Homo sapiens: one gene and its partners. The protein of the gene in region 1 purifies or fractionates together with the protein of each later gene. This does not show direct contact. Each region holds a gene or a part of one and is shown in the gene's direction. Other genes may lie near its edges. The genes, in order: VSIG2, CIP2A, COG5, XPO7, TNPO2, CDS1 and TNPO1.

What was found.
Region 2: the proteins of VSIG2 (region 1) and CIP2A purify together in Homo sapiens (affinity purification with mass spectrometry; 3 studies listed by BioGRID and IntAct, with this or other methods). This does not show direct contact.
Region 3: the proteins of VSIG2 (region 1) and COG5 purify together in Homo sapiens (affinity purification with mass spectrometry; 3 studies listed by BioGRID and IntAct, with this or other methods). This does not show direct contact.
Region 4: the proteins of VSIG2 (region 1) and XPO7 purify together in Homo sapiens (affinity purification with mass spectrometry; 3 studies listed by BioGRID and IntAct, with this or other methods). This does not show direct contact.
Region 5: the proteins of VSIG2 (region 1) and TNPO2 purify together in Homo sapiens (affinity purification with mass spectrometry; 3 studies listed by BioGRID and IntAct, with this or other methods). This does not show direct contact.
Region 6: the proteins of VSIG2 (region 1) and CDS1 purify together in Homo sapiens (affinity purification with mass spectrometry; 3 studies listed by BioGRID and IntAct, with this or other methods). This does not show direct contact.
Region 7: the proteins of VSIG2 (region 1) and TNPO1 purify together in Homo sapiens (affinity purification with mass spectrometry; 3 studies listed by BioGRID and IntAct, with this or other methods). This does not show direct contact.

Annotation. Positions count from the first base shown.
Region 1 is NC_000011.10:124,749,361-124,754,207, reverse strand, and holds the start of VSIG2 (V-set and immunoglobulin domain-containing protein 2 isoform 1 precursor), read left to right. Parts: upstream 1-1,952; 5' UTR 1,953-2,070; coding exon 2,071-2,131; intron 2,132-2,627; coding exon 2,628-2,785; intron 2,786-3,286; coding exon 3,287-3,494; intron 3,495-4,341; coding exon 4,342-4,500; intron 4,501-4,847. Other genes in the region: ESAM (endothelial cell-selective adhesion molecule precursor), read left to right, coding at 247-562.
Region 2 is NC_000003.12:108,565,134-108,569,187, reverse strand, and holds part of CIP2A (protein CIP2A), read left to right. Parts: intron 1-873; coding exon 874-1,033; intron 1,034-2,549; coding exon 2,550-2,691; intron 2,692-3,733; coding exon 3,734-3,833; intron 3,834-4,054.
Region 3 is NC_000007.14:107,557,216-107,561,269, reverse strand, and holds part of COG5 (conserved oligomeric Golgi complex subunit 5), read left to right. Parts: intron 1-3,154; coding exon 3,155-3,294; intron 3,295-4,054.
Region 4 is NC_000008.11:21,918,160-21,922,918, forward strand, and holds the start of XPO7 (exportin-7), read left to right. Parts: upstream 1-1,502; 5' UTR 1,503-1,611; coding exon 1,612-1,629; intron 1,630-4,759.
Region 5 is NC_000019.10:12,699,528-12,703,581, reverse strand, and holds part of TNPO2 (transportin-2), read left to right. Parts: intron 1-55; coding exon 56-154; intron 155-663; coding exon 664-759; intron 760-1,404; coding exon 1,405-1,510; intron 1,511-1,730; coding exon 1,731-1,830; intron 1,831-1,909; coding exon 1,910-1,984; intron 1,985-2,128; coding exon 2,129-2,236; 3' UTR 2,237-2,256; intron 2,257-2,338; 3' UTR 2,339-4,054. UniProt on the Homo sapiens protein: Probably functions in nuclear protein import as nuclear transport receptor. Serves as receptor for nuclear localization signals (NLS) in cargo substrates.
Region 6 is NC_000004.12:84,638,471-84,642,524, forward strand, and holds part of CDS1 (phosphatidate cytidylyltransferase 1), read left to right. Parts: intron 1-453; coding exon 454-522; intron 523-2,367; coding exon 2,368-2,520; intron 2,521-4,054. UniProt on the Homo sapiens protein: Catalyzes the conversion of phosphatidic acid (PA) to CDP-diacylglycerol (CDP-DAG), an essential intermediate in the synthesis of phosphatidylglycerol, cardiolipin and phosphatidylinositol.
Region 7 is NC_000005.10:72,910,333-72,915,114, forward strand, and holds the end of TNPO1 (transportin-1), read left to right. Parts: 3' UTR 1-4,056; downstream 4,057-4,782. UniProt on the Homo sapiens protein: Functions in nuclear protein import as nuclear transport receptor. Serves as receptor for nuclear localization signals (NLS) in cargo substrates.

The DNA of each region.
Region 1 (4,847 bases):
GTCCCTGGTGTCTGCTGCAGCGGGGGCTCTCCCAGCTCTCCTCACAGAGGCTGGGAATTCAGGCAGCTCTCATCTATTGGGATGGGGTCAGTGGCTGAAACATCATTCCTATGGGCAGGTTTTAAGGGAGAGGGAAAGGAGTACTGAAGTGTGCAGGCAGAGGTGGTATATAAGACCAAGCAGGTAGAAACTCTCTCCTCCTTCCCCCACCCACTTCTGACCTCTTGTTATTTCTTTGATGACTAGGGAGGATGCCATTGCTCCCCGGACCCTGCCCTGGCCCAAGAGCTCAGACACAATCTCCAAGAATGGGACCCTTTCCTCTGTCACCTCCGCACGAGCCCTCCGGCCACCCCATGGCCCTCCCAGGCCTGGTGCATTGACCCCCACGCCCAGTCTCTCCAGCCAGGCCCTGCCCTCACCAAGACTGCCCACGACAGATGGGGCCCACCCTCAACCAATATCCCCCATCCCTGGTGGGGTTTCTTCCTCTGGCTTGAGCCGCATGGGTGCTGTGCCTGTGATGGTGCCTGCCCAGAGTCAAGCTGGCTCTCTGGTATGATGACCCCACCACTCATTGGCTAAAGGATTTGGGGTCTCTCCTTCCTATAAGGGTCACCTCTAGCACAGAGGCCTGAGTCATGGGAAAGAGTCACACTCCTGACCCTTAGTACTCTGCCCCCACCTCTCTTTACTGTGGGAAAACCATCTCAGTAAGACCTAAGTGTCCAGGAGACAGAAGGAGAAGAGGAAGTGGATCTGGAATTGGGAGGAGCCTCCACCCACCCCTGACTCCTCCTTATGAAGCCAGCTGCTGAAATTAGCTACTCACCAAGAGTGAGGGGCAGAGACTTCCAGTCACTGAGTCTCCCAGGCCCCCTTGATCTGTACCCCACCCCTATCTAACACCACCCTTGGCTCCCACTCCAGCTCCCTGTATTGATATAACCTGTCAGGCTGGCTTGGTTAGGTTTTACTGGGGCAGAGGATAGGGAATCTCTTATTAAAACTAACATGAAATATGTGTTGTTTTCATTTGCAAATTTAAATAAAGATACATAATGTTTGTATGAGATAAGAAACAAGTTGCCTTTTCAAACTAAGAATTCTTGAAATTGAGCTTCAGGAGGATGCAAAGTGGACCCCTTCCCAAGCTGTGTACCCAGGAGGGCTTCCCCCCACAGGCTTAGAGCAGCTCTTCTAGTGTTTAGAAGGGTCCTTGTTTGTCACGTGGAGAAGGGGAGGAGACTCTAAGCTACTCTGAACAGCAGAGGGATGGAGTTGATACGCTTTCTGCTGGAGCTTGAGTGCTCCCGGCTAGGGGGTACGTGTACCTCATCTGCTTCCTCTTCAGGGACAGGGGAGAGGAAGCTCACGTGGGCTCCTCTCCCACACCACGGAATCCTTAACAAAACACTCCTTGCCCATCTGGAAGAGATCTCTGTTGTTACTGAGGGAGAGCTGGGCATAGTATGAGGTGCAGGTCTGTGTCCAAGTTCTGCCATGTTCTTTCCTACCAAGGGTGAGGTCTCCTTTAGGTCTCAGTTTCTCTGCCCCTAAAATGGAGTGGCTCTGGAAATGGAGAGATGCTCATTTCTACAGAGACTCCTACCTCAGTAAGTGGTGAAATGAAAAGCGCTGTGGACAGGAAGGGTCTGCGGCCTGGGGCTCACACTCACAGTGAGGCTCCGAGGTGGGGACTCCCCTTGCCAGCTCTGGGGTATCAGGACGCCTTCCAAAGTCAGCTTTCCTTCCGTCTCTGCAGAAGGCCCACCCCAAGCCCAGCGCTTTTCCCAAGGCCGGACAGCTTCAGACCTTGGGGAGAAGAGGAAGGAAGGAGGAAGAAGGGACAGAGGGATTGCAGAATCGGGGCTGGAGGAGAGGAGGGAGGAGCACTTTTTTTTTTTTTTAACCTGCGGCGCCGGCCTCTCCCCTGTTTGCTCTGAGATACCAGTCTCGCTCCTGCCCAGCCCGGGCGGCTGCCCTTGGGTGCTCCCTTCCCTGCCCGACACCCAGACCGACCTTGACCGCCCACCTGGCAGGAGCAGGACAGGACGGCCGGACGCGGCCATGGCCGAGCTCCCGGGGCCCTTTCTCTGCGGGGCCCTGCTAGGCTTCCTGTGCCTGAGTGGTGAGGAGGGGCCGGGCGGGACCACGGCGAGGGCTGGGGGGCATAGGCCTGGCTTCCCCGGCTCCTCGGACCCACTCTGTCCCCGCCAGGCCAGATGAGGCTGCCGTGGGCGCCAGGGGCCCTAAGGCGCCTGAGGTGAGGCCGGAGAGGGGGTGTCCAAGGCCCGGAGGGCGTAGGAGAGAGACCCCCAAGCCGGCGAGCGAGTTGGGCCTCTCCGCGGCACAGGCCTGAACCACCCCACCGCAGGGCTAGTGTTTTCCTTTCTCTGCTAAACACACACACCCTCTTACCTGGCCCGGTTCCGGCTCTTTTACCCACAAAGACCCGGCCCCTCCCGGAAACCTCAGGTTTTGGGAAGGGAGGGGTTGGATTGAGGGGAGAGGGTTGTGCTCTGGGGAGGGAGCCCCCAGCTTCCAATATAGATGCCCGGGGGTGGGCCCGACCCTCCAGATCACTGGAATTTGGGTTCCCACCTCCCTCTGGTCCCCGGCCCCAGGGCTGGCCGTGGAGGTGAAGGTACCCACAGAGCCGCTGAGCACGCCCCTGGGGAAGACAGCCGAGCTGACCTGCACCTACAGCACGTCGGTGGGAGACAGCTTCGCCCTGGAGTGGAGCTTTGTGCAGCCTGGGAAACCCATCTCTGAGTCCCATCCAGTGAGCTGAGAGCGACTGCATGAAGCTGGGTTGGCCTGGAGGGACAGGAGCCCAGGATGAGGGCATGGGGTCGGGAGGGGGAGTTTGGGGATCAGTATGCTTGGATGAAAAGGTAAGTGGGCTCTCCCTAGATCTTTTCAGAGCTGCAGTCTGCCTGACCGTGTATCTTCCTTTCCTCTTCCATAGCTCCTATTTCCAACTCCCCTGCCTTAGTGTATCCATTGACACTAAGGTGTTGTGACTGATACCAAGATAATATGCTGCCTCTTCTGCCTCTCTCTTTGAGAGAGAGAGAGAGAGACCAATGGATCAGGTTCATTTAGCACCTGAAAGGGGGTGGTGTTTGGGGACAGAGAGACCTTTGGAGTTCCAGCTTAAGGGTATCAGCCTCCCTGGCTGATGTAAGTCAGAGGCCTCTTATACCCACTTTGATGAGGAAGGACTGTAGAGTTGATGCCAGGCAGAAACAGGCACATATGTGTGTCTTCTGCCTCTCCCCAGATCCTGTACTTCACCAATGGCCATCTGTATCCAACTGGTTCTAAGTCAAAGCGGGTCAGCCTGCTTCAGAACCCCCCCACAGTGGGGGTGGCCACACTGAAACTGACTGACGTCCACCCCTCAGATACTGGAACCTACCTCTGCCAAGTCAACAACCCACCAGATTTCTACACCAATGGGTTGGGGCTAATCAACCTTACTGTGCTGGGTAAGGCAGACTGGGGATCCACGAGCCACATACTCTTTCACATACTTGGGGCGTTTGCACTGGTCTTGCTAAATCTCTGGTTTCTGACTTTTAGCCCAAGCACACAACTGCACTGGGGGCCCCAAGTGAAAATACTCCCTTTCCAAGTCTTCTAATTCAGATGGTCATACTCCAACTCCACCCTCCACCGAGAGCATCTCCTCCATCAGAGCCTAATAACAGAGTGTGTGAGAGAAAGTCCTTCCCATACATGGGGATCTGAGCCTGCTCCCAGCAGCTCCATCATGGGGGAGGCTCTCATCGGTAGTTGGATTCTGTCCCTCCCAAGGTCAATGGCAGAGAAGGGGAGTGGCCACCAAAGGAACAAGGGCCCCTATTACTGAGCACCAACTTCGTGCTCAGAGCTTCTGTCTCACCCCAAACTAGAGCCTTTTCAGAGATGAGCAACCAGAAAAACTATCACAGAGACTGGCAGTGTTTAGATGGAAAAGAGAAGGCCTCGGATGGGTGTATTACTGCTGGATTCAACTATCCAAAGGGCTGTCATGTGGAGGAGAGATTTTAATTTCTCTTTGTGGGCCCAAAGGGCAGGAACTGAAACCAATGGGTGGAGGTTATGTTAACACACATTTTGGCTCAACATGAAGAAGAATTTTCTCTAACAATCAGAATTTCCAATAGTGGAAATCCCTCAGTTCCTGGGGATGCAGTGGTGTGTGGACCCAAGAGGACCACTGTTTGATAGGGGTATTGAAGTAGAGAATGTAGCACCTAATGGAGTTGGGAGTGGGGCTGGAAGATTGCTGAGGAACTTTCTGTTTTTTTTTTTTTTTTTTTTTTTTTGCAGTTCCCCCCAGTAATCCCTTATGCAGTCAGAGTGGACAAACCTCTGTGGGAGGCTCTACTGCACTGAGATGCAGCTCTTCCGAGGGGGCTCCTAAGCCAGTGTACAACTGGGTGCGTCTTGGAACTTTTCCTACACCTTCTCCTGGCAGCATGGTTCAAGGTAAGGGCCCAGGGCATCAGGAAGAGGGTACTGGAGACCTGGGCAAATCTGGTCTCTAAATCCCACACACCCGTATTATCCGTTCCATGACTAGGGGTATGACACAAACCACTATACCTTTCCCTGTCTCTTCCTTGGCTTCCTGTATTGTTCCCTCCTGCCTGTCTTTCTGCAGTCTGTGGCTGCATGATCCTGGGGGTATTTCTCAAGCTGAATATACTGCTGATATCCTGGAAGAGAGTAGAGGGCAGGGAGCAATCTGATGATGACCACCCATCTGCCTTGGGGAGATTTCTTTTAGGTTTCCTAAGGGTCGTGGACCACTTCCAAACTTCCTAGAGAGGAAA
Region 2 (4,054 bases), on another chromosome or scaffold:
GTATGTATATATATATATAGTGCTCATTTCAGTGTAATAAGTAAAGATATTAAAAAGATTTATATAATTTGTTGCCTGACTACTGGGGATAGTTACATTGTCTCTCCATTGCAATAGATGCCATCTACCAAGTTTAGTAGGCCATTGAATGGACAATAGAGGCATATTGGATTCAGTCAGTGAAATGGAGTAGAGCATGCCAGATAATGTGCTAGGCACTTAAGATACAGACAAAACTCCACATTCTGGTAGATCTTACTATCTGGGCAATTTAATATTCTCTACTATTCTCCCTGTTTATAAATCCATTCTGTCTAACCCAATATCTCCTGAAAGTATTTCCCTTCACATAACTGGGTCTTACACACAAACAAATATGTGTATGAAGTGATTAAATATGTTCATTAAGAATTATTCACAAAATTTTCTATTTTATCTTGGTCTTGATTATTTAACAATCAGTTTTAACATTTAAAAAGCCCTTTGAGGGTCTTGAGGGAAATTATTTGTGGTCATAAACTATTAAGACCAATGTCTATTATTTAATTATTGTTATTACTTTTAGCAGATTCAGGATATTTGTTTTCAGTAGATACTTTTAGTTTAGAATAATTTTTAAATCACAAAGTCTGTTTAAAAAAGTCTTATTTGTAAAACCTTACTGTCTAATTTGAGAAAAAAGCCATAGCCCTCAAAACTGGTTAGAAGTATAAATTTTAAATAAAAATTTAAATATTCACAGGAGACTTAGGTCAATGGCATATTGAAGGAAATATAAAAAATTTAAAGAGAGTGTTACAATTCAGTGATGACTTTTTCTGTATTGTATATTCCATCTTTGCTTTTAATCATTTGTGATGGATAATTCTCCAGGATGTCATAGATGCTGCTAACTGTTCCTCGGCTGATCGTTTTGTGACCCTTCTGCTGCCTACAATCCTTGATCAACTTCAGTTCACAGAACAAAATCTAGATGAGGCTTTAACAAGAAAAAAATGTGAAAGGATTGCCAAGGCCATTGAAGTTTTGTTAAATATCCTTTACTGTCATTAACGTGAAAACTGTATAACTAACCATTCTTTTTTTTCTAGTATTGCATTCACTGCATTTTGTCTTTATTTGTAATTTGTCACTTTATGCTCATATTTATCTAGAATTACTGAACTAAAATTTGAACTGTAGAAAAAATTCTCAATGAGTGAAAAAGATCCATGATTTTTTTTCCTTATTTTTCTGTGTGAAACTTTTAAGTTAAAGTACATTTTTTAAAATGCTGTTTAAGCTTGATTTTGACACTTGTATCACAATTTGACATTTGGTGGTAAATTCTAAAATGACTATTCTGTTACTCCATGTTACTGTTTTCTGCTTGATGCTAATTATTTCCCCTGGACGGACGATCAGTAGTGCCATTTTTTGGTGATGTGTATTCGTGGATAAAGAAATGCTGATAGAGTTGTCATGATTTTAGCTCAGTTGTTTTACCTTATGTTTTAAAAATAAAGCCTTCATAATTGCTTTAATAATGGTTATAAGAAAAGACAAGTATATCAACACAAATTCATTCATTTAAAAAGAAACCTTTTAGTTTCACTGCTTAACTTCTATATACTGATTTTCTAGGTCTTCCTTGTGTTTACTTTTTCATAGACCAACTAATTCTGAGTTGCTGGAAGTCCCAATTTTAAAATATTTCATTAATACTTTTTTACTATGAGCAAAGAGCCACTGTATCTCAACCAGATCTCTTAAATGTATCTAGTCAGGTTTCCTTGTATCTCAGAGCAACAAGAATATGTTCTACTCTGTCCTAGAGCAAACTCCACCCCTGTTTAATATCCTCTTCTAAGGTACTGCTCCTTAATTTTCTTCCTTTAAAGCAGTGACTTTCAACCCTGATTTCCTACCTAAAATCACCTGGAGAACATGTAAAAAAAAAAAGAAAATCGATGCCAGAACCTTACTTCAAGAGTTTCTAATTTAATTGGAGTGATGTGAAACCCTGAAATCATTAGGTGGTGTGTGTTTGCATGTTGGCTTTTTTGTTTGTGATTGTTTAAACTACCTGGTTGATTCTAACATGCAGCTAAAGTTGAGAACCACTGCAGTAGGGATACATGATTGCTTGACCTTGGAGATATTTATAATTAATAAAGTGGGGCCTTCTCATTGAATTGGACCACAACTTTTAAAATAATAGCTATTTACATTAATTTATAATATACAAATATGACAAAACAACTTACCCTTATTCAATAAATATTTATTGAACCATTGAGATTCTTGCTAACAAAAAACAGACATCCAATGGAAAGATATCCTCGCTGTTTTAACCATTGAGTCAGAAACCTTTGGTGCCAGTCCATCTCTTACCACTTGCTAGTCATTTAAATTGTGTGAGTTTCAGTTTCCTTGTTTGTCATTGAGCTAATTTAACAATAATTATACTGGATGACAGTGATGATATAATTTGTATGAAATCATCCTGAATGTTATCTTTTACACATAAAGTGAGAATTTTTTTGTTGTATATCTTAACAAAACTTAACCTCTCTGTGGAGATGATACACTAAAAATGCATATTGCAAAAATCTTGACAACTGTCAAGTGTACCACTCTTATAGAACAACAATTTACATATGGCAAGATTGACCTGGGATTTGGAACAAAGGTTGCAGATTCTGAATTATGGTGAGTATATAAACTCTAATGACAAAATGGCAAGGCAGTAAAAAATCGAAAGATGTGGTGATTCTCATCCTTTTGGAGGACCATCCTTTGGTTATAACTTAAGATATAACAGATTAACAAACATATTTTCATAATGAATTTTTTGTAAATTCATTCAATTTGTAGATTGTGTGCTTTTTGAAGAAAGGTATTAACATTTGTTGTTTTTTATTGTTTAGGTTTGTTTTGTCTTGTTTTAACTTACTATAATTATCTAAGGGTTCTGAACATTTCTGGAGCTCCTTTTTGACATTGCCTCAGTAATCAATTTTACTTTTTTAAATGAAAAGCATGAAAAAACAGAAGAGTAGTTTTATTACAAGGAAATCAGTCACTGCTAAAGGCTTTTTAATAACAGACAACTCTCCTTCCTTGGCAGGTCAGGAATTATGGTTAAAGGTGGATTTTCACTGATGGTAATAAGATATTACTTTATACCCCTTCCCTCCTCATGAATTAAGTCCATCTAATCTTTACTGAGGACCTGCTGAGTGGTAGACACTATGATTTGTTTCTGTTTCCACAGATGTCACAATTGTCAGTAATTGTGGACCTTTAGAGTAAGAATTATCTGTTTTTATATTTGTATACTACTTTCAGGTACAAAACTCAGAACATGACCTAGTGTAATTCATTCATTACGTATTAGATATTCTATATTGCCTAAGGTTACCGTCTGTTGTTGATATTCTAGTGACAAAGCTAAGAATTAAATGAACTGTGTTTCGAAACTACTACTTACTTGAAACAGAAAGTTGAAGCAGGTTGGTAGTAAAAGAAACACTGTCTAAACTAAGGCTATTAATGCCAGTTTGTTCTCTTTGGATCTTGAGTTATAAGAATGTTGATTGAGATTTTTACTTCTCAATAGAAACAGGACTTTATCATCTTGAATTTAAAAAACACAAGTGTTGGTTTTTTTCATTTTCTTTAGAATTTTGGACAGAAACAAGCTCTAAGAAATTTTTCAGTTATCTAATTTAAATGTGATTTATCTTTAAAGCAAACTTGCTGCTGATGTAATTTTGAAAACTCTTGATTTGATTAACAAACTTAAACCATTGGTTCCTGGTATGGAAGTAAGCTTCTACAAAATACTTCAGGTGAGTTTAAACTCTTCAAACATTGAAGTTTATTCATACATAAATGGTCCTAATATAAGTTTCTGTTTTAATATTCTTAATCTTTAGAAGATAATTCTCTTAGAATTGGCAATGAGAAGAAAGTTTAAAGTTGTTGTCTTAAGCAGTTATAATAGTCTCACTGCACAGTTATTTTATATACTTTCACAGGAATTGAACATAAGTGCTCATGACACTAATGT
Region 3 (4,054 bases), on another chromosome or scaffold:
GCTTGGTGAGCACAGATGCATAGTATGAAAATTGGTGAGGTGTTTCTGATATGCCCTCTATGGGAATGAGGAAACTATAAAAGAGAAGCATTATATAATTCATCTCTTTAAAGGCTGTCAGCCCTCAAATGCCACATCCCGTTGTGTTTGATCTTTGTAAGCTCTATGACAATACTAATACTTACTTTCTTTATCCCTTCTTTTGGCTTTTGCCATTCTTTTTTGTTTCTCTTTCTCCCTGAGCACTCTTTAGTCTCTTTGATTGCTTTCATTTTCTCTGTCCACCCCCCACTTTCCTATCTTCCTCATTTTCCTGCCTTTTTGTGCATTCTAAAACTTTTTTTTCCTAAATCATCTGGTCTTGTCTGTGGTTTCAGTATGCTCCTTACCTGTCTTCTGAATTATAAAACTATATTTTTAACTGCCTACTGGACATTTCTATCTTAATTTTTTTATGATATGCCATTCCATAACCTGTATGGACATTTCTATTTTGATAGTAAACAAGCAGTGCTAGTTCTATAATACACATGAAAACCTACATATGAACAAATAGTACAAGGTTTACATATGAAAAAATGAAATGAATTCACTTTTTCTGTTCTTCTCTCCTAATCTTTTCCTCTGGTAGTTTCTGTTATCTGTGTTTACTATGTTGTTAGGTAAATGTGTGCTTGTTCCCCTTGTAAATTATGAATTCCTTGGAGGCAGAAGTTTATGTTCATCTTGGTATATTCAGTGTCTAGTGGTCTAAGTTAGTGTAAAACTAAATTTCCTGTATCAGTTGCTTAATCCAGAAATTTGGGAATCCTTGTTTGTTCTACCTAATCACCCATTTTCAGCTTGTCACTAAGTCCTACATCCTGTGCAGTGTGAATATTTGTCAAATTTGTCACTTTGACATTCTTAGTGCCACTTATTCAGGTCTTAGTCGGGCCTTCATTATGTCTTAGGCTGTTAACATAGTACTTTACTGGCCTCTGTGGTTCTATTTCTTGGGTGTATTGGTTAATTGGCTTTGTGGGAAAATAGAAAAAGCCCTGATTTTTGTAGTGTTTGCTGATTACCATGGTGTAAATACTCTCACCATCGTAGATTTTAAGATATCTGTGTGAAAGGTCAACTGGCTCACAGAATTCCTGAAAATGTAACAGTCTGTGCTCAAGAGCCAATAAGAGGCAACTTCAGCACATTGCTGTGTGACTAATCCTTTTTCCATCATCCTCTATACAGCTGCCAGGATTATTGTTCTGTAACATAAAGCTGATAGTGCAATTTCTTGGGTTAAATGAGATATGGTTAAACATTTCAAATGTCTTACAAACCTCTTTTCAAACTGCGCTCCAACCTTTGGAACCACATCTGTCATTCTTTACCATTTCTGTCCAATATACATGTGCTATGATTTAGACACACTGAAATCAGTATTCCCCTTGTTTCTCAAAATATGCCATGGCATTTGCCACTGCTAAACCTTCCCTTTGCTTGGAATGGCTTTTTTCATTTGTCTGGCTGACAGGACTCTTAATTCTGAGAAGCACTTGGCAAATCAGAAGGAAATGTGGTTCTCAGACTTAAAAGCAGCCAAAGTAGCAGTTTCCTTCTTTCATTCCACTACATTTTAAGAATAATCAAGAGTATGAGCCTTTACTTTTTGTTGTTGGTTGTTACCAGAATGATACTAATGATACATCAGCTGATGTATAGATTAGTTAATTCATGGAACCTGCCATGTGTCTGGTATTGTTCAGACACTGGAGAAGAGTTAGCAAACAAAACAAAGACCTTCTTCCCCTCTTGGAGCATACATTATAGCAGATGTAGACAATTTAGGTTTTCTTAAAAGTACTCTATTTTGTTTGTTTCATAATCTCTCTCAAGGCAGCTTTACTTGTATCTACTGTATCATTAGGAGATTTGGTACATGGTTACCATGAGCTCCCTTCTGGGTATCTATTTTTAGCTTTCAATTCTCTTAATTTTTCTTTCATCCACATATTTGTGGATTTCTATATTGAGGGGTATCTTTTTAACATCTGGTATTACTTCTGTTTTCTGTCTATTAGGGGCCTATTTTAAACAGCTTTTCTTTCCATTAACATATTTCACCCATAAATCCTAAATTTCAGTAACACCTATAAATTTATATTTCCTATTGTTACTAAAATTCCAGATTCACTTTGCTATAACAGTATTTGTGTATTGATCTAGAGATATCTGAGGCCATAAATATTACATATGTGTATATATATATATAGAGTCAATTTTCCTGTTGTCTTTTCACTGACAATGATCTTGTTTTCTTGGATTAATAGTTATAGCTAGTAGTTATGGTTTTTTTTTTTTTTTTTTTTTGAGATGAAGTCTTTTTTTTTTTTTTTTGGGACAGAGTCTTGCTCTGTCGCCCAGGCTGGAGTGCAATGGCGCAATCTCAGCTCACTGCAAGCTCCGCCTCCCGGGTTCACGCCATTCTCCTGCCTCAGCCTCTCGAGTAGCTGGGACTACAGGCGCCCACCACCACGCCCGGCTAATTTTTTTTATATTTTTAGTAGAGACGGGGTTTCACTGTGCTAGCCAGGATGGTCTTGATCTCCTGACCTCGTGATCCACCTGCCTCGGCCTCCCAAAGTGCTGGGATTACAGGTGTGAGCCACCGCGCCCGGCCAGAGATAAAGTCTTGCTCTGTCACCCAGGCTGGATTGCAATGGCACGATCTCGGCTCACTGCAGCCTGTGCCTCCCGGGTTCAAGCTATTCTTCCACTTCAGCCTCCCGAGTAGCTGGGATTACAGGCACCCGCCATGATGCCCAGCTAATTTTTGTATTTTTGTAGAGATGGGGTTTGAGGTTTCACCATGTTGGCCAGGCTGGTCTTGAACACCTGACCTCAGGTGATCCACCCACCTCGGCCTCCCAAAGTGCTGGGATTACAGGCATGAGCCAGTGTGCCTGGCCAGTCGTTATGTTTTTTAATCTCTTTCTCAATGTTATACTTCCTTTAGGGTCATGATAAAAGTAAGCATTAAGCAGTATAGTGGAGTGGTTCAGAGTATGGGATCAAAATATGTTAATTATGATTATAATTGTTCTGTTGTTTAATAACTGGTTTAGTACAGGGTAATTAAGGACTTTTCCTTATTTTTTCCCCAATCCAGGGTGTTATAGTGACTTTTTAAACGAAGACTTTGATGTAAAGACTTATACTTCTCAATCTATTCATCAAGCTGTAATTGCTGAACAACTAGCAAAACTTGCCCAAGGAATCAGTCAGTTGGACAGAGAACTACACTTACAGGTAATTCTGATCTTCTGGGTCCCTATGGATTATTCAGCCTAAAGTGATAATTTAGCATTTTTGTAATCTTATTAAATACAAATGCATATTTACATGAAGAAGTACATACTTACCAGTGTGACTTATTTTTCAAAGTAAATTTTTGAAATTTTCTGTAAACCACTTTTTGTTTGTGGAAAAACTAATATACCACCTCACCAAAGCCTTTCATTCATACTTCCTGTTCACCACCTTAACTGATGTGCAACGAATATAGTGGGCAAAAAATAGGATGTGTTCGATAAAGATAATAGAAAATGGAATTTTGGAAGTAAAACAATATGAATAAGAAAAATTGGGATGTTACATTCGCAATTCATACTTTATTAGCACAAAGTGTAGCATTTGCTGAAATTACAGAAAGTTGATAAATGTTATTGTGAGTAGGATACAATATGAGATGTTAGGCGACGGGTCCTAATTTCAGCTATGCTGTTGTTAACTGACTTTAATATCACTTAAAGTCTTTGAGTCTTGCTTTTTTGTTTTTTAATCTATCAGATGGGTTGGAATAAGCAAGAGGAAGAGGAGACTGTAGTAGATAACTTTGAAGATTCCCTCCTCTACTAAAATTCTGTAAATTTTATAGGGCGATTTTATGGCATAATTTCTAGTGTTGCCTTTGATTGAGTAGGTATTTAATACATATTTAAATGAATGAACATATGCATGAAACATAGATTGTTTACCAGGAAACATAGATTTGGTATAACCTGAGACA
Region 4 (4,759 bases), on another chromosome or scaffold:
CTGGCCCACTGTGAAACTGTTACCTCTATTCAGTCCAGTAGGGAATCCAAAGAATTTCCATTGCAATTGTGACTCTGAGAATATTTCATTGCCCGATGCCAGGTTCAGAAAGCCACTGACCCCATCACCCCGCCTCTTTATACGCTCGGAGCTAATGATTGGACGCTGGGAGGTTTTGGGGAAAAACAAAAACCCAACATCTGAAAAGGTCTATGCTCGCTAGAAGTTAACAGTCAAAAGCTCTGCCACTTAAATCTTCTGCCTCTTAAATCTTCTCTGAGTCAGCCTAATTGGCAGAGCCTAATTTGCATACAGAACCCTAGCTGCAAGGAAGTTTGGGTAATGTAGTTTCCAGGTGCCCTACCTCTGCAAACCAGGAAGACCTACTAGGAGGACGGAAGTCGAAATGAATGCTGAGCACCGGTCCACTACATCCACCAAGGGTGTGTAATTCACTACCACCATCATTTGCATATGATGGTAGTCCCCTGTAAATACAAACTTCAAACAATCAGTGCTCTCAGAATCCAGCTATGATCTAACCTGGGGGCCTTAAAAGGAAGCCACAGTGGAATCCAATGGAAAACAGGAACCGGCATTATCTAACAGATAATTCCTAGTGAGGAAGACTGGAATTGGCCTCAGCATGCAGGGGCTGACCTTATCTGACCCAGAGAGATGGCTTTCCCACTCATACCTCCACAAGACCGAGCCTAGGGGTCCTAACCACCAGCCCCGCTGCCTCTTCCAGCATCTGACCCTCTCGGGAGGCAGTCTAGAGTATTGGCAACGAGGACAATGTCTTTGGGAAGCCAGAACTGTGCCTTCGTATGTTTTGATCATCACCACCATTCGGTGGTTATTTCCATGAATGTTTATCAAGGACGAAAGGACAGAAATGAAAAACACGAGATCAACCACTGGGGTTGCTGGTGAAATCCAGACCAGAGAGCGATGGCCCTGGTCCAGAAAGCTAGACAGACACAAGCACAGAATCGGCCCCCGTTGAGTAGAGGGCATTGGAAAGTAAGGAATCTCGCAGGCAGCCTAGGTGGGGTGTGGGGGGTCCCCGTAGCTGCAGGGTGGGGTGGGGGTGGGGGTGGGAGACGTCCAGGGGCGAGTCAAGGGGGAAGACGGTTGGGAAGAGAGGAAGCCACTGGGTGCAGGGGTCCCGGGGCGGCGACAGACCTCGGCCCCCATCCAGGAGCCCTCACCACGCAAACGAGCAGAAGGCAGCGCCAACTCCCACTCCAGCGCCCGCCTGCCGGAGCGAGCGCGGCCCCTTTAAAAACCATGTAAACAAAGCTTTGTTCCCCCAGCTGCCCCTCCTTCGCGCTCCCCCGGCCCGCTCCTTCCTCCCACCCGGCGTCTCCGGGCCGCTGACGTTGCCCGCGCCTTTACGCCGTCCCAGCGGTGCTGCGCATTCTCCAACCACGGCCCGGGCCGCCGGGGCCTGCGCAGCTGAGCGGCGCTACGCCACGAGCGCAGCGCGACGAGTCCCCAGCGCGCAGGCGCAGCGGCGACGGCGTCGGCGGCGGCGGCGGCAGCGGCTCCGGCCGAGGTGCGCGCTGGGGGGGAGGGGGGGCCGGAGAGGAGCATGAATGGAGCAAAATGGCGGATCATGTGCAGGTGAGAGGAGCCGCGGGGGGGAGGGGGCGACCACGAAGAGCGGCGAGTGGAGTCGGGGGTGCACACGGCCCACAGGGCGCCAGCCGGCTCGGGACTCGGCAGGCCCGCGCCGCCGCCACTCGGGGCTCTGGAGCCGCCGCCCGTCCCGGAGCCCCGGGGCCTTTCCCGCCTCCCGGGCCGGGGGCCTTCTCCGTCCCCTCCCACCCGGTCCCACACCTCGCGCGCGGGGCTGCAGGGACAGGAACGGGCATCCCGGCGCGCGCAGCCCACAACGTTCGTCAGTCACTGTCTTCGTCCCCGGGGGAGGCCTCCGTCAAGTCCTCGGGCCCCCCCGCCCGCCCCCCGGTGAAGCGAGGGGGACCCCCTTGCTGACTTTACTGAGGGGGACGCCCCCATGACGCCCGCCATCCCTCAGCAGATAACAAAAAGGAAACCTCGCGCTGATAAACCTCGCTCTCCGGAGTCTTTCCCGCCGCCTTCCTCTCACGCCCCGGAATACGAGAGACCCCCCAGCAACCCCGGCCTCCTTCCCCCTCCCACGGATGCGCCCTTCCCTCCGACACTCCAAATCGTACAGCCCGGAGGGCCGAGCTCCCCGGTCTTCCAAAATGGGTGCTCAGGCCTCGGCCCGCCTCCCCTCGCGTCCCCCTAGCCACAGTGAAGGAGTTGAGCGCCCACACCTCCTATGAAACACGGGGTGGAGGGGGGTGTGTCTGAAATGAGAGATGCAGGGTTGGGTGCAGACGTTGCTCGGGAGGGTCTTGATCCGGCTCAAGAGCTGCTCCTAGCGTGCTGTGGGGCCAGGCCACTCTCCTCAAAGACAGGCACAGGCCCTAGAAAGGGACAGCCCATACCAAACCCAGTAGCAGATGGAGGACTGCAGGGTTTAATTTCTTGCAAACTAGATAAAGTTTTTCCTGTCTGTGCCAGAGATCTGATATTTTTATGACAGTTATTGATGCACATCCATTGTGGGGAACCTTCCAATTTTCTAGGTAACCAAGTGCACAGGTTTTGTGTTGTGGCAAGGAAAGATTAGAGGGCAAGAAGTGTCGCCTTTATATTCTGTGGCATCATTCCTCAAGTAAGAAGAATGATCTCATTCTTAATACGTCTACAAGAATCTGGAGTGGTGTGACTTCTGCCCCTTTCTTTGGAGAGAAGGGACTAAATAAAAGACTTAATTTTCAGGCCAGAGATCAGTAAAGTAGATCTTCGGAGTGTGCGGGACAAGTTGTCAGGACAGAATTATAGCAAGAAACGTAATCACAGGTGGAAAACCACGGGATTTGTGTTTCAAAGCCAGTACCTTGGCTTAATTCAGAAGTGACAGTAAAAGTTGATACAAGGAGATGATAATAATGATAATAATAATAGTATAGCACCTTGCGTTTTATAGCAGTCATTTCTAAGAAGCATGAAATATTTTATGTGATTTTTAAAAATTCTTGGATCTTACAAGACTCAGGCAGGAATTACTTCTGTCATTTAAAGGAACAAAAACCAAAGCACAAGAATGATAATGAGATTTGGTTAAGGTAAGTCTAAGTGTCCCAAAGTCTTTGGAGTTTGGGTCCAGTGCGCTTCCTTACTGGGGGTTGGGGGGATGTCTATGAGCATTCTAGAACAGGCTTTGAATAGATAGCCTTTGTGAACCATGCTTCGGAATGCAGAGGGAGTCAGTACTTTTATGAATATACATCGTGCTATTTGCTGTTTCCCGTAAAGAAATATCTCTTAATGTGATCTCCCACATTTTCGAAGCATAAAGGTTGTCATTCCTGTGAAAGTCAGGATGCATCAAAGCAATCTTCACAGCATTTGTCGCTCCAACGAAGGTCTGTCTTATTTTTAGTAAGATGTTGTTCTCCCACTCACCACTCAAAAATCTACGGAAGTAAGAATTTATTAACTTTTCAAAACAAAGGGGAGCATGTTGATCAGTGTTTTATTGGTACCCTTTATTTACTTTTAAGAGCTGCAATCTGTTGGTCTAAATTAGTGCTTAGTGGTCTTCATATCAACGGGGTAAGTTTGTGAGTGAATTTTTTTCCCTTTAGAGAGAATGGGACATACTGCTTTTCTTTGTCAGACCACTAAGTGTTAATAGTATTGGGCACTCACAGATGTTAAGGTGGTACTTTATTGTGGCAGAAAACCTTCTTATGAAAAAGATACACGCTTCCCTAGGTATAATGAGTAAATAAAGGATTCATTAAAGACAGTCTGCAATGCATTGAGGGGAGGGTGGCGGGGATATTTTTCTTATAACACTAATCAAACGTGAAGTTTATAAAGGTGTCTGCTACAGATTCATGACTGATTATTGGAGAGTTGCATTTGTTGAACTAAATAGTCGAGTCATTATGTTATCTAGTGCTTTTCTGAACCACCAGGGTGAGCAGTTTTTTCATAATTGAGGCTGAGTGTCATATGATTCTCGGGTTCTCTCAGGCTGATGTCTTGGATATCTCTCTTCTAAGGATATGTATTTTATGGACGATTTTAAGTGCTATAAAACTTTAGTAATGGGAAAATTATAATATTTGGATTGCCCTTTAGCTCTGTTGATGTTACAGGCAAGTGTCTGTAGAAGTGTGCCCTTAAGCAGCTCCTCGATGTGATGGGTTTCTTACTCTTGGTCTTAGATAACCTTATCTAACTTTCACCCTGAAGGCAGGGTGGTTACAAAGCTTTGCGTGGGAGAAAAAAATCAAACTTACTTATGTGTGTTTAATTATGTTTAGTTGCCCTTCCTTTCATGTTTTTTTTAACATATCTAAAGCTGGTAAGTTATCGCAAAGAGATGAAGACAACGCTCAGTGAACAGTGGTGATGAAGAAGATTAAGAAGGATCAGATGTTAGTTTTAATAGTGCTAGCTGGTGTTCAGGAGCTCGAGAGGAAAAGGAAGGAAAGAATATGATTTATATATCGAATATGCTATTTAATATGAATTATATTAGTTTTACCATAAATAATGGAAATGAAGACTGATTCCAGGATTTTGCTGGAATTACTACGTTGTTGTGTTGGGTCTTATTATTTACTGGGCTTTGCATTATGACTGTACTAGGAGAATGTACTATTTGCAAAGTAGTCATAGTTTGTTTTAAATTCCAGGCACAGTA
Region 5 (4,054 bases), on another chromosome or scaffold:
CTGCAGCTTACCCTGGCTGGCCCTCCTTCTCAGCACCCCTGTTTCTCCCCACCAGCCGAGTTCATGCCCATTCTGGGCACCAACCTGAACCCAGAGTTCATCTCCGTCTGCAACAACGCCACCTGGGCCATTGGTGAAATCTGCATGCAGATGGGTGAGTGCCCTGCAAGTGGCAACACGCGCCCCCCATTAGCCTGTTCTCAACCTGGGGGCGGGAGCCTAGCTCTGACTGACAGCTTCCTTCAAGGCAAGTCTCTTGGGGGTCGTCAGGGGTGGAGCCAAGCAGAAAGGTCATTTGTGATTGGCTTCTCTAAAGAGGAGGGATAGGAGGGCTGTTCTGATTGGACCGTTTTGTGTAGTTGGCTAAAAGACTCATTCGGATTGGTTGGGTGACTTTGGCTTTTTTTTTCCTTTGACTTGGGCAGCGTGTTGTCACCTTAGCGACTCCAGAGAAGCCTCTGTTGTTTGGAGGGTGTGGGTCTGTCCCTGGTTGGCCAGGGATTCTGGGTGGGGATTAGCCGGAGAAGGTCTTTTGTTTCCTCACTGGTAGTGGTTGGCCAGTCTCTAGTTGGAACTGGGGCGAGTAGTGAGTGAGGTGGGGCGGCCCCCTGGCCCCTGTGGGTGGCGGGGGCTGTGCAGGGCTCTGACTGGGTGCTCCCCCAGGGGCAGAGATGCAGCCTTATGTGCAGATGGTCCTCAACAACCTGGTGGAAATCATTAACCGACCCAACACACCCAAGACACTGCTGGAAAACACAGGTGGGCACCTGGCCCGGCTGCTGCCTGCACCCCTGCCTGCCTTCTGGAGGTGGGGTTCTGGGCTGGGAAGGGCATCAGAAAGAGCCTTGTCAAGGAACCAAGGAGGGTGTCTGGAAGTACCTGGAAGGGGTCACTGGGAGAAGCCCCAAGAAAGATGCAGCCTCAGGCTGGGTGCAGTGGCTCATGCCTGTAATCTCAGCACTTTGGGAGGCAGATCACCTGAAGTCAGGAGTTCGAGACCAGCCTGGCCAACATGGTGAAACCCCATCTCTACTAAAAAATACAAAAATTAGCCGGGGGTAATGGCACGTGCCTGCAATCCCAGCTACTCGGGAGGCTGAGGCAGGTTGCAATGAGCCAAGATCATGCCACTGCACTCCAGCCTGGGCAACAGAGCAAGACTCCATCTCAAAAACAAAACAAAACAAAAAAAAACAAAAAGGAAAGGGAAAGGAAAGAAAGAAAGATAGATGCAGAGAGACCTGGGAAGTGACTCAGGTGTGATGAGGAGGACCCCTGGCTGGGCCAAGCTTGGGGGACCAGGGTGGCTGCAGTAGCCATTCCCTTGGGGCTCATGGGGCGGGGCTTGGTGCCTTGTGCCAGAGGCCCCGCCACGTACCGTCCCGGGGCCGCTCGGGGTTGCAGGTCGCCTGACGAGTCCCTCTGCCATTCCAGCCATCACCATCGGCCGCTTGGGCTACGTGTGCCCCCAGGAGGTGGCACCCATGCTGCAGCAGTTCATCCGGCCTTGGTGTGTGTCCACGTGTCAAGCCTGCTGTGTGGTGGGCGGGACTGGCCCAACCCCCTCCCTCGCCTGTGCATTTCCAGCCCCATCTGCCTACTGACTCCCTGCCCTGCCCCACCCCCACAGATGCATGTCCCAGGCCCACTCACTGATCCCCAGTGACCCAGCCCTCCACAGATGCATGCCCAGCCTGCCCTCTGACCTCCAGCTGCTCACCTTCCCACAGGTGCACGTCCCTCAGGAACATCAGGGACAACGAGGAGAAGGACTCAGCCTTCCGCGGCATCTGCATGATGATCGGTGTCAACCCGGGGGGCGTTGTGCAGGTTGGGGCAGCTGGGCTCTGAGGGCAGGCGCGGGCGCTGGGCTCGGGCGGCCCCTCACCTGGGATCCGTCACGTTTCAGGACTTTATTTTCTTCTGCGATGCTGTAGCCTCCTGGGTGAGCCCGAAGGATGACCTTCGGGACATGTTTTATAAGGTGAGGCTCTGTCTGGGCCCTGATCTAGTTCCGGGAGCAGGCAGGGGTGAGACCATCTGGTAACAATGGGGCCTGGGGATGGGGGAAGAGGCGCACTCCCCTTGTTCTGCCCCTGCCTACCCCTCACCACCACCCTCCCCACAGATTCTCCACGGCTTCAAAGACCAAGTTGGGGAAGATAACTGGCAGCAGTTCTCTGAGCAATTCCCGCCGCTGCTCAAGGAGAGGCTGGCGGCTTTCTATGGGGTCTAGGTGATCATGGAGACTGCCAGGTAAGGAGACTGCAGCTGGCAAGTCAGCACTGTCTTGGGGGCCGAAAGGTCCCAGGCCATGACCTTCCTCCTCCCCCTGCAGGTTTCTGTCTGCGTCGTCGTCGGAGGGATTACTGGGGAGTGCGCTGCATCCGGAAGTCGCTGTGCCCTGGTTGAGGGGGGTTAGGGAGGAGTGAGTGGGACTCAAATCCAGATGCCTTCCCCGTCCGTCCGTCCGTCCGTCCATCCGTCCACTTGCCCTCCTGGCAGGTGGGTGGGGCCACCATGCTCATCCTACAAACGGGGAGGTGGGGGGGACTTCTGGTGGGCAAGGGCCCCTGGGCTCTAATAGGGTCATCTCTGGCAGCCCACTTGGGCCAGCTACGTGGGAGGGAGGAATTACACAGCTGACCGAATCCGGCTTCGGATGAGGTGAGGGAGGAGCAGGTCAGGAGGGGGGCCCTCGTAGGGACGCGTACACTCACACGGACACACATGGCCACACGCATGTGCGGGTGCCATAACCGGCGAGGCTGGGCCAGCCGCTCCACCATTTCCCCGACTGCATGGAGACAGTAGAATTAGTGAACCCCTGAGTTAACCCGTAAGGCCTTCCGTGTAACCTGCATCTAGAGTTTAAGAAGCTTCTGCTGTTTTGCCGGAATTGGCGGTGACTGGGGAGGGCTGGGTGGGTGGGGGGCCTCAGGCGGGATCTCGGGGCGGGGGGAGGAGGATGGTGACCTTGGGAGTCGCCCTGTCAGCACGCACATGCTTGGGACCCACTCCACACACTCCCTGCCAGCTTTGTTGCAGCCTCAGCTGGTGGTGTCTCCGTCCTTATCCTAGCCTAGCTCGCAGGGTGAGAACCACTGGAGTGGCTGGGGCTGGCCAGAGGTCACCGTTTCTCCTTCCTGTGTGCTCCAGTGGCTTTTGAAGACACTGGGTTGGGACCTTTTTCCTGAAGAGAGCTGGGTGTAGCCAGAGCTACTGGCACCTACCCCGAGCATCTCTCTCTGTAAGCAGCTTCAGGGGCAGTCCGTTTCTCTGTGCTTCTGAAACCCCCTTCTCACGTTTCAGGCCCCAGTTTTAACTCAAGGCCTGGGGCAGGGGCGTTTAATTGATGATGACAGAGGACACAGGTTTTTGCCAGCAAAAAGGAAAACCAAGGCTTGGTGGAAGGGAAAGGTGGTGTGTCCCCTGTTCCCTATTCCATCTCCCTGGGACTTCCTGCTCATCATAGTACCCAGTGAGCCCAGAGATCCTACTAGACTGGGTCAGCAATTCTAGAGAACCTTCCGGAATAGTCTGGGAACATGGTCAAGGTGGAAGGGGCTCCCCTAGAGAGGGTGGGGGTGTAGTTACTTCCCAGTTGGCCAGAAAACTGGGCCTTGCAGACCCCCTTAGCATTTTTTCCCTTTTTTTCCTTCCCTGCTTTCTACTTCTTTGGGGAGCCCCTTGTGTTTTGGAGTCTGACTGGAGTCTCGCATCCTGGGGCCTGCTCCATCCATCCCTCCTGGGCGCCAGACCCTCCATCCAAGCCCTGTGTCTTTCCATAGTCAGGGTCAGGCCCTGCATCTATTCCAAGGGGCACTCAGTACACATTCCATAAATTAGCTGGGTGTCCCTGCACGCCCACCCCATGAAACTCGAGCAGGTCTCTGGAAGCCATTTGTTAAAAAAAAAAAAAAAAGTTTTAAAAATACCTTTTAATTTTCTGGTAATTCCAGTTCTTTGAAGCATCCTCTGCTGGGTCTTGGGGTGTGTGGATGGATTGGCTGTCTGATGGGATTGGTAACCCCTCGCTACTCAAGATGGGGGG
Region 6 (4,054 bases), on another chromosome or scaffold:
GTTTTGTTGTACTGATTCTATTTTTGGCCAATAGCAGGTCAATACTGACTGTGTGTACTTGGAATGAATACGTCTCATTCTTATTCCAAGAACTTACACCAACTATTATCAGGTTTTATATTAGCATAAGAGTCATGGGACAGTTATTTTAGTATAGAGTTTATACTCTTTTGAGAGACAGAACAAATTTAGACCATTTAACATGAACAAACACATATTCACAGCATTTCAAATATTTGAGGGCCTACTATGTGTTTAAATATTATTAGAGAGATTTTCACTAGTAAATCAAGATCAGAGAAAAGGAAAAAGGGTTTTGAACTATTCCAATAAGAGAAAAAGTAAGGAGAGATGTACAAGTTATTGAGGAAATAGTTTATATATATATATATATATATATTGTGAGTTTTGTGAGTGCAGTAAAGCTTTTTAATTTTATTTGCCCTTTTTTAGTTGTCTCCTAAAAAGACTTGGGAAGGATTCATTGGTGGTTTCTTTTCCACAGTTGTGTTTGGATTCATTGTGAGTATTACTAAGATTTTTATTTTGTATACATTTCGAAATATGATACCAAGCTTACTGGTCTAATTTTAAACCTAGAAAAATTAAACCACAAAATGCTAATAATATATTTATTGAAACCTACTGAAAAGAACCAGTTCTGTACCTCAGCAGCCCTTATCCTGGCTACATATAGAATCACCTGAGAAGCTTAAACAAAATCTATGTCTCAGCCTTATCCCAGGCCAGTTAACACCCCCAGGTAATTCTAATGGCCATCCATGCTGTCTTGCTGACTTGCTGACTTACTGTTGTGCTGTTGTGTTTGGTAGTTTCTAACAGCTATTCTGCCTTAGGCGGGGCACAAGTACTGGGACAGGTGGTGGCCTTGTGTAATAGCAGAGGATGCAAATACTATTGAAAAGCTCTGCCTTCTTAAACACATGGTGGCCACTTGGCTCAGTGGGTGGTTACTGTTGTGGGCCCAACTTGCAGAAACAGTCTAACTATAAACTATTAATGTTTGCTTTTAGCATGTTAAATAGCTATTTTTCATGTTTTACAAATTAGTTTACAGTTATAGGATTTAGATTTTTATTAAAAGGTGTCTAGTGAGAATGAGAGTATAGTACCATAGCTGGATATAAGATAAATGTACAAAAAAGTACTGTCAGGAAGCTTTACTTTTCCTAGTTTCTGACAGTTGTGGTTACATTCTGTATCCAAATCTAGAGTACCTAGTAACAACATGAAGCCTGGAGAGAGTGAATATACAAATAAATGGAAATATGCCATGATCCTGGAAACCACCAGAATTCCTCTATTTAATTTATAAATTTAGTTCATTTGCAATGAAAATTTTAATAAAATGTGATAAAATTATTCCAGTGTTTTTGTGGTAGAATATTGATGAGATAATAATGGACAGATAGAAGAATGCAAAAGGATCCAATCTCATCCAATGTTTTTACATTACAAAGCGAGAATAATTAAACATTATGAAGCTAAATAGTGTAAGAATTTGTTATTATCAAAGACTAACTTGAAAATACCACAGGAATAGCCATATCATTGGAAGAAAAGTAGGAGCTACCCCATAAGCATGTAATGCATGACAAAATAATGAGGAAGGAAATTCCACATCTATATGAAATTATATATATATAATATATATAATAATATGTAATATATATAATATATATTTTATATATATAAAATAAACTGGTTGTTTGGAAGCAAAATCAGTTTATATTCATTCCTAGTGTCTTGAATTTCTATTACTCATTCTCGAGCAGAATAATAGGGTGAATGGCTGCAAGAAAAGGAGAATAAGCTGTTGTCTAGCAATTTAAATTTATAACAGGATATCTTATTTTATGTATCTTATTTCCAAGGCTGTGGACAGCTAGTTTTAAAAATTGCAATGGTGTGGCCAGGGAAAGAATAATTTAGTCAAAGTTTTCTGGGTTGGCTAAGAACAATGGTGTTTTTAACCTGTACTATTTTGTACTATTTTATTGTAATTTTGAATTACTGGTTAATTATTAACTGATGAAATTAATAGAAGCTTGTGTGCAGTATACTTCAGTTCTTTATTCTCCTGTACCGTATAATTGTGATTATGCAGAGATTACAATCTTATTGATTTCAAAAAAACTTTTTTTTTCTAAAGGTCTTTTAAGTCTTTTACTAGGATAATTATGACCATTTAACTTTGAAAATACATAGCAAAATATTAAGACAAAGAAATTCTGGCATTCTATCTCTGGCCTTTCTGATGTATAACTTAAAAGATATATGTTTAGTCAATGTGTTATGAACTTTTGCTTTGTTTTTTGTTTTGTTTTGTTTTGTTTTTAATATCAGGCTGCCTATGTGTTATCCAAATACCAGTACTTTGTCTGCCCAGTGGAATACCGAAGTGATGTAAACTCCTTCGTGACAGAATGTGAGCCCTCAGAACTTTTCCAGCTTCAGACTTACTCACTTCCACCCTTTCTAAAGGCAGTCTTGAGACAGGTACAGTAAAAGTTCAAGATAAACATGGTTAGAGATCTTCCACTCTGAAGATTAAGCTTCCTTTATTATTTATTTATTTATTTAATTAATTTATTGTTGTTTTGAGACAGAGTTTCCCTCTGTTGCCCAGGCTGGAGTGTAGTGGCGTAATCTCAACTTACTGCAACCTTTGCTCAAGTGATTCTTAGGCCTCAGCCTCCTGAGTAGCTGGGATTACAGGCGCTCGCCACCACATCTCGCTAAATTTTGTATTTTAAGTAGAGACGGGTGTTGCTATGTTGGCCAATCTGGTCTCAAACTCCTGGTCTCAAGTGATCCGCCTGCTTCGGCTTCCCAAGGTGCTGGGATTACAAGCATGAGCCATTGTGCCTGGCCTGAAGATTAATTAAGCTTTCTTTAAAAGTGGGATTCAGATTTGTACAAGAAACTGATTTCTGTAGAATTTTTAATTCTTTGATATACCAGTGGTTTTAGTGTTAGCTTAAATCAAATGGATGAGAACGGGTTACAAATCAAATGGATCAAATGGTTTAGAATGTGTTTCTCATATCACTGACATCAGTTGACACAATTTAAAACTTAAAATTCACCAGTTTACCGAGTCCTTGATTTTTAGAGGACATTTATTATGGACAGAAAGTTGCTGCTTCTACAAATCAGTTTTCCTTCCAAATACAGTGCCTTCCTTGAAAGGTATCTTGGAGGCCTTACACTAGAGGATGTTGACATGCCCTCCAGTGGAACCCTCCTGATCTGTGTCATCAGGTCTGGTGAGTGGCTGGTTAAAGTGAGGAATCAAATAATAGCATGTATGTCTGTATCTTTGTGTGCACACATGTACAGCTTTGTATCTGAATCATTTTACATAAAATCCATAATTTTTGAGGAGTAGCTTAACAAATTATTTCTCTCTGAGTGCTCAGTACATGGTTTCCAAGAACTTTTTCAATGTCCAAGCCATCTGTTACCTGCTATAAAACTTTTTATACTGCTAGTGTTTGATTAGGAGCAAGGCTATTTATTGCTTTGAGAACAGGTCAAAAAATGGATGTCTCAGCCGGGCACATTGGCTTATGCCTGTAATCCCAACACTTTGGGAGGCCAAGGCAGGTGGATCACCTGATGCCAGGAGTTCCAGACCAGCCTGACCAAAAGGTGAAACCCATGTCTACTAAACATAAAAAATTAGCCAGTCGTGGTGGCATACACCTGTAATTCCAGCTACTTTGGGAAGCTGAGGCAGGAGAATCACTTGAACCTGGGAGGCGGAGGTTGCGGTGAGCCGAGATTGCACCATTGCACTCTAGCCTGGGCAACAAGAGTGAAACTCTGCCTCAAAAAAAAAAAAAAAAAATTGGTGCCTCAGACATCTTTCTTCAACCAAAATGGGTGCATTTTGCACTGTCTATAAATTGTAGTTTCAGATTATTTAAAAAGGAGCAAGAACTACAAATTTGCAAAATAATTTGACTACAAAATTCTTCTCAGCCTTTATGATTGTCTCCCCAAATCTTTAGTGATTGTCTCACTGATG
Region 7 (4,782 bases), on another chromosome or scaffold:
TTTCCTTCCATGTGTATTTTCTTATATACTGTGAATGTGAAAACCTAACTGGTACACTTGATCTTGTGTTCATATGAAAGTGCAAGTCTTTATTAATTTGGATTGCCTGAACAGTGTATCCCATGATGATGAAGGAAAATGGAGAGATTTTTCTTTTTAACTCTGCTGGTCAGAGATGAAGCCACGCCTTTCCATTTTTCAATGCTGCATATTTAATCTGCAACAAAAATGTTAAGCCATAACAGCCTTTTTATATTTTAGTTTGTCACCTTTGCATTGCAGAATAAATACTGAATAACCATTTTTATAAGCAGTTGCTCCTCTTTGCATGGTTCTATTCTCTAAAAGTGTTGAATGATACAGCCATTGCACTGAAGTTTGAGCTGTGTGCGTGTGAATTTATACTGTTTCAAAAATTTCAAATGCATGGTAGCATGTAGAAAGGTTTTTGTTACTATGTGTGTGTGTGTGTTTTGTTTTGTTTTGTTCTGTTTTTTAACGTTCTTTCACCTTTCCTCTACTTTGGCTTTGCAAATTTCAGTCTGTAGAGCCTGAAATTAAATTATTTTATAGTGCCTGATATTTTTAATATTATAAGTTGGATTCAAAGGGTATACAGCATTTTGTTTTCTAGTACCATTGCTTCACTGGGAGCTCAAAATTTGCCTCCCTGTTAGTCTTTAATAACTGAGTAGAGTAGCTTTTTTATTCTTAGATTATAGTGATATTCTGTAGTGCTTCAAATACTTAGAATTCTAATATGAGAGATAGTTTAATATTCTGGAATAGAGAGTATTTTAAATTGAAATGACCAAATTCGATTTAAAACAAACACATAACAATCTTCAGTAAAGTTATTTGAACCTGTGGTTGACAATTCTGTATTGACTAAAGGCAATATTGTCACCTGTCTCATTAAAAATTAGTTTCCAGTTAGGCAGATGAATAACACTATTAAAAATGCACCCAGTTTTGTAGTCACTTGACTTTTTTTTTTTATTTAAATGAAATTTAATTTGAAAATAGAAAATAAAATTAGGTAAATATGACTGGCAACCTGAATTTGAGTTGGGATTCTTTGTGTATTTTTCCCCCTTGAGGTTATTGTTTCTTCCTAATTTATATTTCAGATACATAGTGTAGAACAGGAATTTGCAGAAGCCATTTAAGTTATCTTTTGAGGTAAGCTCTGATTTAGCATTTATTCTGATAAAATCTAATACATCATGGGATATATATAAAGCAACTTAATTCTTGTGGTGTAGTCTTAATAGTTTTGAATGTTGACTGAATGTCTATAAAATTGTGAGTTTGTCTTTGTTACATTCCAGTGTTTCTGCCTCTTGGCATGCTTAAAGCACGGCTTACTTCATCTGCTCCTTACACACTAAAATGCTGTTAGTGTGCTCAACTACAGAAATAGCCGCTGCTAAGTGATGTAGATTTTCTACTTGAATATTTTTATGTTGTAGGAACCTCAGGAGGTCAGTGTTTACTGTTTTATATATGCCTTCTTTTTCCTGTTTGAGCTTCTCTCTTTGAAGGATTCTAACAGAACAAAGCTGCTGATCAACCTAAGTTGGAAACAGAAAGTGTAATTAATATAACTTAAATGCATGTTTGGCAGTTCCATGTTACAGTCCATTAGCGAGTGAACTTAGTGCCACAGGTATTCATTTATTCAGGAAAGAATTTTGCTTTTTGTATTGTCTAATCTCTTCAATGACTTCATACTGTGTAAAAAAAAATCACTTTTTAATATTTTTTGGTTGGTTATTTCCCAAATAATCAACATGTAAATAATCTTTTAAGAGCCAGTTCTGATGCTTTACATTATTGCTACTTGATTTTGTTATGCAAGTTAGATTTCAGAAGAATAGATTTTAAAACACTTAACCAAGCCATTACATCTTAAAAACAAAACAAGTAGCATACATTTTGTAATTAACATTGATAAACACTGTGATTTTTTTGGTTAAGACTTTTTCATTGATCTGAATTGCTTAAATTGCATATATTGTAAAATAGGATCAGATGTATATTTTAAACTAATTTCAATGGATTTTCCTCTTGAAATGCTTTGTCTACTCAGTTATAAAATATTCAGATACAAGTTTTATCTCAGGTGAATACTCTTGTATTGTTTTTGCTTTGGTGACATGCTTATAAAGGGTCATCCTAGTTACATTCTTTGTTTTTTAAGTGTATTTCATTGAGAATCTTTCCATTTAGTCTGATTTTTTTCCTAATATTCTAGCAGGCTGGGGTGGTATAAAGCCCTCCTGACAAGCCTTTTGCCTACAGGTTTACCTGAAAATGAGCTACATATGGTCGTCATTTTCTTCAAACTCTCAAAATAGGAAAGTGGAAATTTTTCTCCCCTATATAAAATTATTCTGCCTAGCAGAAATGCCAGAAATAAATTAATTGCATCTTAGTCTAAATTTAAGTCCTTTGCCATGAGGAAAAAGTGGTTTTTTGCTTCATATGGTAAATCTATATTATTCATATTGAATGTATTAACAGATAATGGTGCAAAAGCATTCTTCCCAGGGGAAGAGTGTATCATGCATAACTGCAATTTAAGTCCTTCCTTTGATAATACTTCAAAACATACACAGCTTTGCTTACTGAATTATTTTTGCAAATAATACAAGGAGGGGAAACTAACTTGCTACTAGTGTTGTTAATGAAGTATAGGCCTTGGAACATTTAAGAAAACTGGTCTTCAGATAGTTAAGGGCTTGGGATAATTTAAGTGAAAAGTGAGATCAGTAATGAGCTGTGTTGTTAACAATATTATCTGGTAATAATACCATGCAATATAGCGTTGTATACCAACTTAGTGCATTTTATACTGTATTAAATATGGAGATACTTCTAATGCCTCTCTAAAATTAAATTTTACATAAAAGTTAGTTTTATTCACCTTTAGGCTTTCCAAGTGAATTGTGACTAATTTTTTCAATCTTACATAGATCTTTCACCCATTAGCATTACTTACGTAGATAATTCTTTATGCCTAGTTATTATACATATTAATTTTTAAGGTATACATTTAAATTACACAATTGTTCATTGTGGTTTGTATCCCAGAATGTGTTGTGTTTTTTAAAAGATGCATAATAGCTGAATGTATGCATGACTTTGAAAGAAGTTAAAATGGTGATTTTTTTTCACCTCTTGTACATTTTAAAACCAGGCCAAATCTATTTGCCAAGCAGTGTATCACTAATAAGAAAAGCAGTTTTTCCTTTTATTGCAGTTTTTGTTTATCTGCCATAGAATTTCCTTATACTGTGGCTTGGTATTATTCAAGATTAGCTATTTCGCTGGTATTACATCTTTTTAAAAGCCTATTATAACATGGTTAGCCTATAAGGCAGTGTTGGTCCCCTTCTAATATTGGCCTCATAAAGGGGTTCCACTGTACTTTCCGCATATTACTGTGTTGTTGTTTTCCTTTGTGGATATATAAGCAAATTGAGCTTGGGTGATTTTTATGGAGACAATAATTAGACAATACTGTATAATTAGTTTTACTTAATAGATTATCATCTTGTGAGAAGAGATGTTTAAACGTGGTAAATCACTTCATATTACAAAACAGTTTTACACTTAATATGTTAACATTGGGTGCAATAATTTAGTAGCATTAGCTTTAGTTACAAATATAACTGGATCTTTCTGCTGACAACTTAGGTTGTATGAGTTATGCTTAAAAGCTTTAAATCTGATGTTTCCTGTACCTGCCACACTATGTTAGAATGTGTCCTTCAAACATATCCTCCTGCAACTTCTCAAACTGTACTAAATTGATATTTCTTGAAGTCTAACTCTGTGCTAACAGATCTCCATTTTAAATAGAATACGGTTTTAATTTTTGATAAGCTGCTGAATTTTAAAGAGAGTTTTTTGGGGCCACCAAATATTTTGGATCATGCAGAGAATATATATTGTACTGTAGTAATTTTGTATTTACATTTGTATGATGTGACATAATAGATGTGAATGTTAATCACTGCTTGACTATGTTAATAAAGTTGTTTAACTATAGATGTTGCACTCTGATTTTTAATGAAAGGAAATGAGTTTTCTTTTTCCCTCTTACCCCATTTTGGATCTAGATAAGCCTTATGTTTTTTGGGATTTTTTTCCTTGTTTTTAGTTTGAGGTTTTGTTTTGTTTTTTCCTTAGCTTACACATTAGTACACTTTTGTTGTTGAACATCATTTATTTCTTAAAACAAGTGTTTTCTTATTTGTATAGTATAGTAAAAACCTGTTTTTCCACATTTTAACTTAACTCCTTGATGTGTTTTAAACAGTTGATTATAGGTTCTGCTGTTTGAGGATAGGGGACATACTATTCTGTAAAAGGAATTAAAGGCGAAATTGTGAATATAAAAAGTTGATGTAAGGAGAGATTGCATGAGTGTGTATGAATGTATGTCCTATTAAGGCTTCCTCTTTATCCTTCAAACAGTTAAGATTTGTAATTTGGGGAATTAACATTTATAAGAGTAATTTTTTCTTCAGGTTGTAAGGCATTAATATAGTTGCATGTTACTAATTAAATGTATTAACACATTTCAGGGAGTATGTGTGCATAACTGTCATGGTTTTTTTTGTTTTTTGTCTTGTTTTTGAGATGGAGTCTTGCTCTGTTGCCCAGGCTGGAGTGCAGTGGCACAGTCTTGTCTCACTGCAACCTCTGCCTCCCGGGTTCAAACGACTCTCCTGCCTCAGCTTCCCAAGTAGTTGGGATTAAGGCATGTGCCGT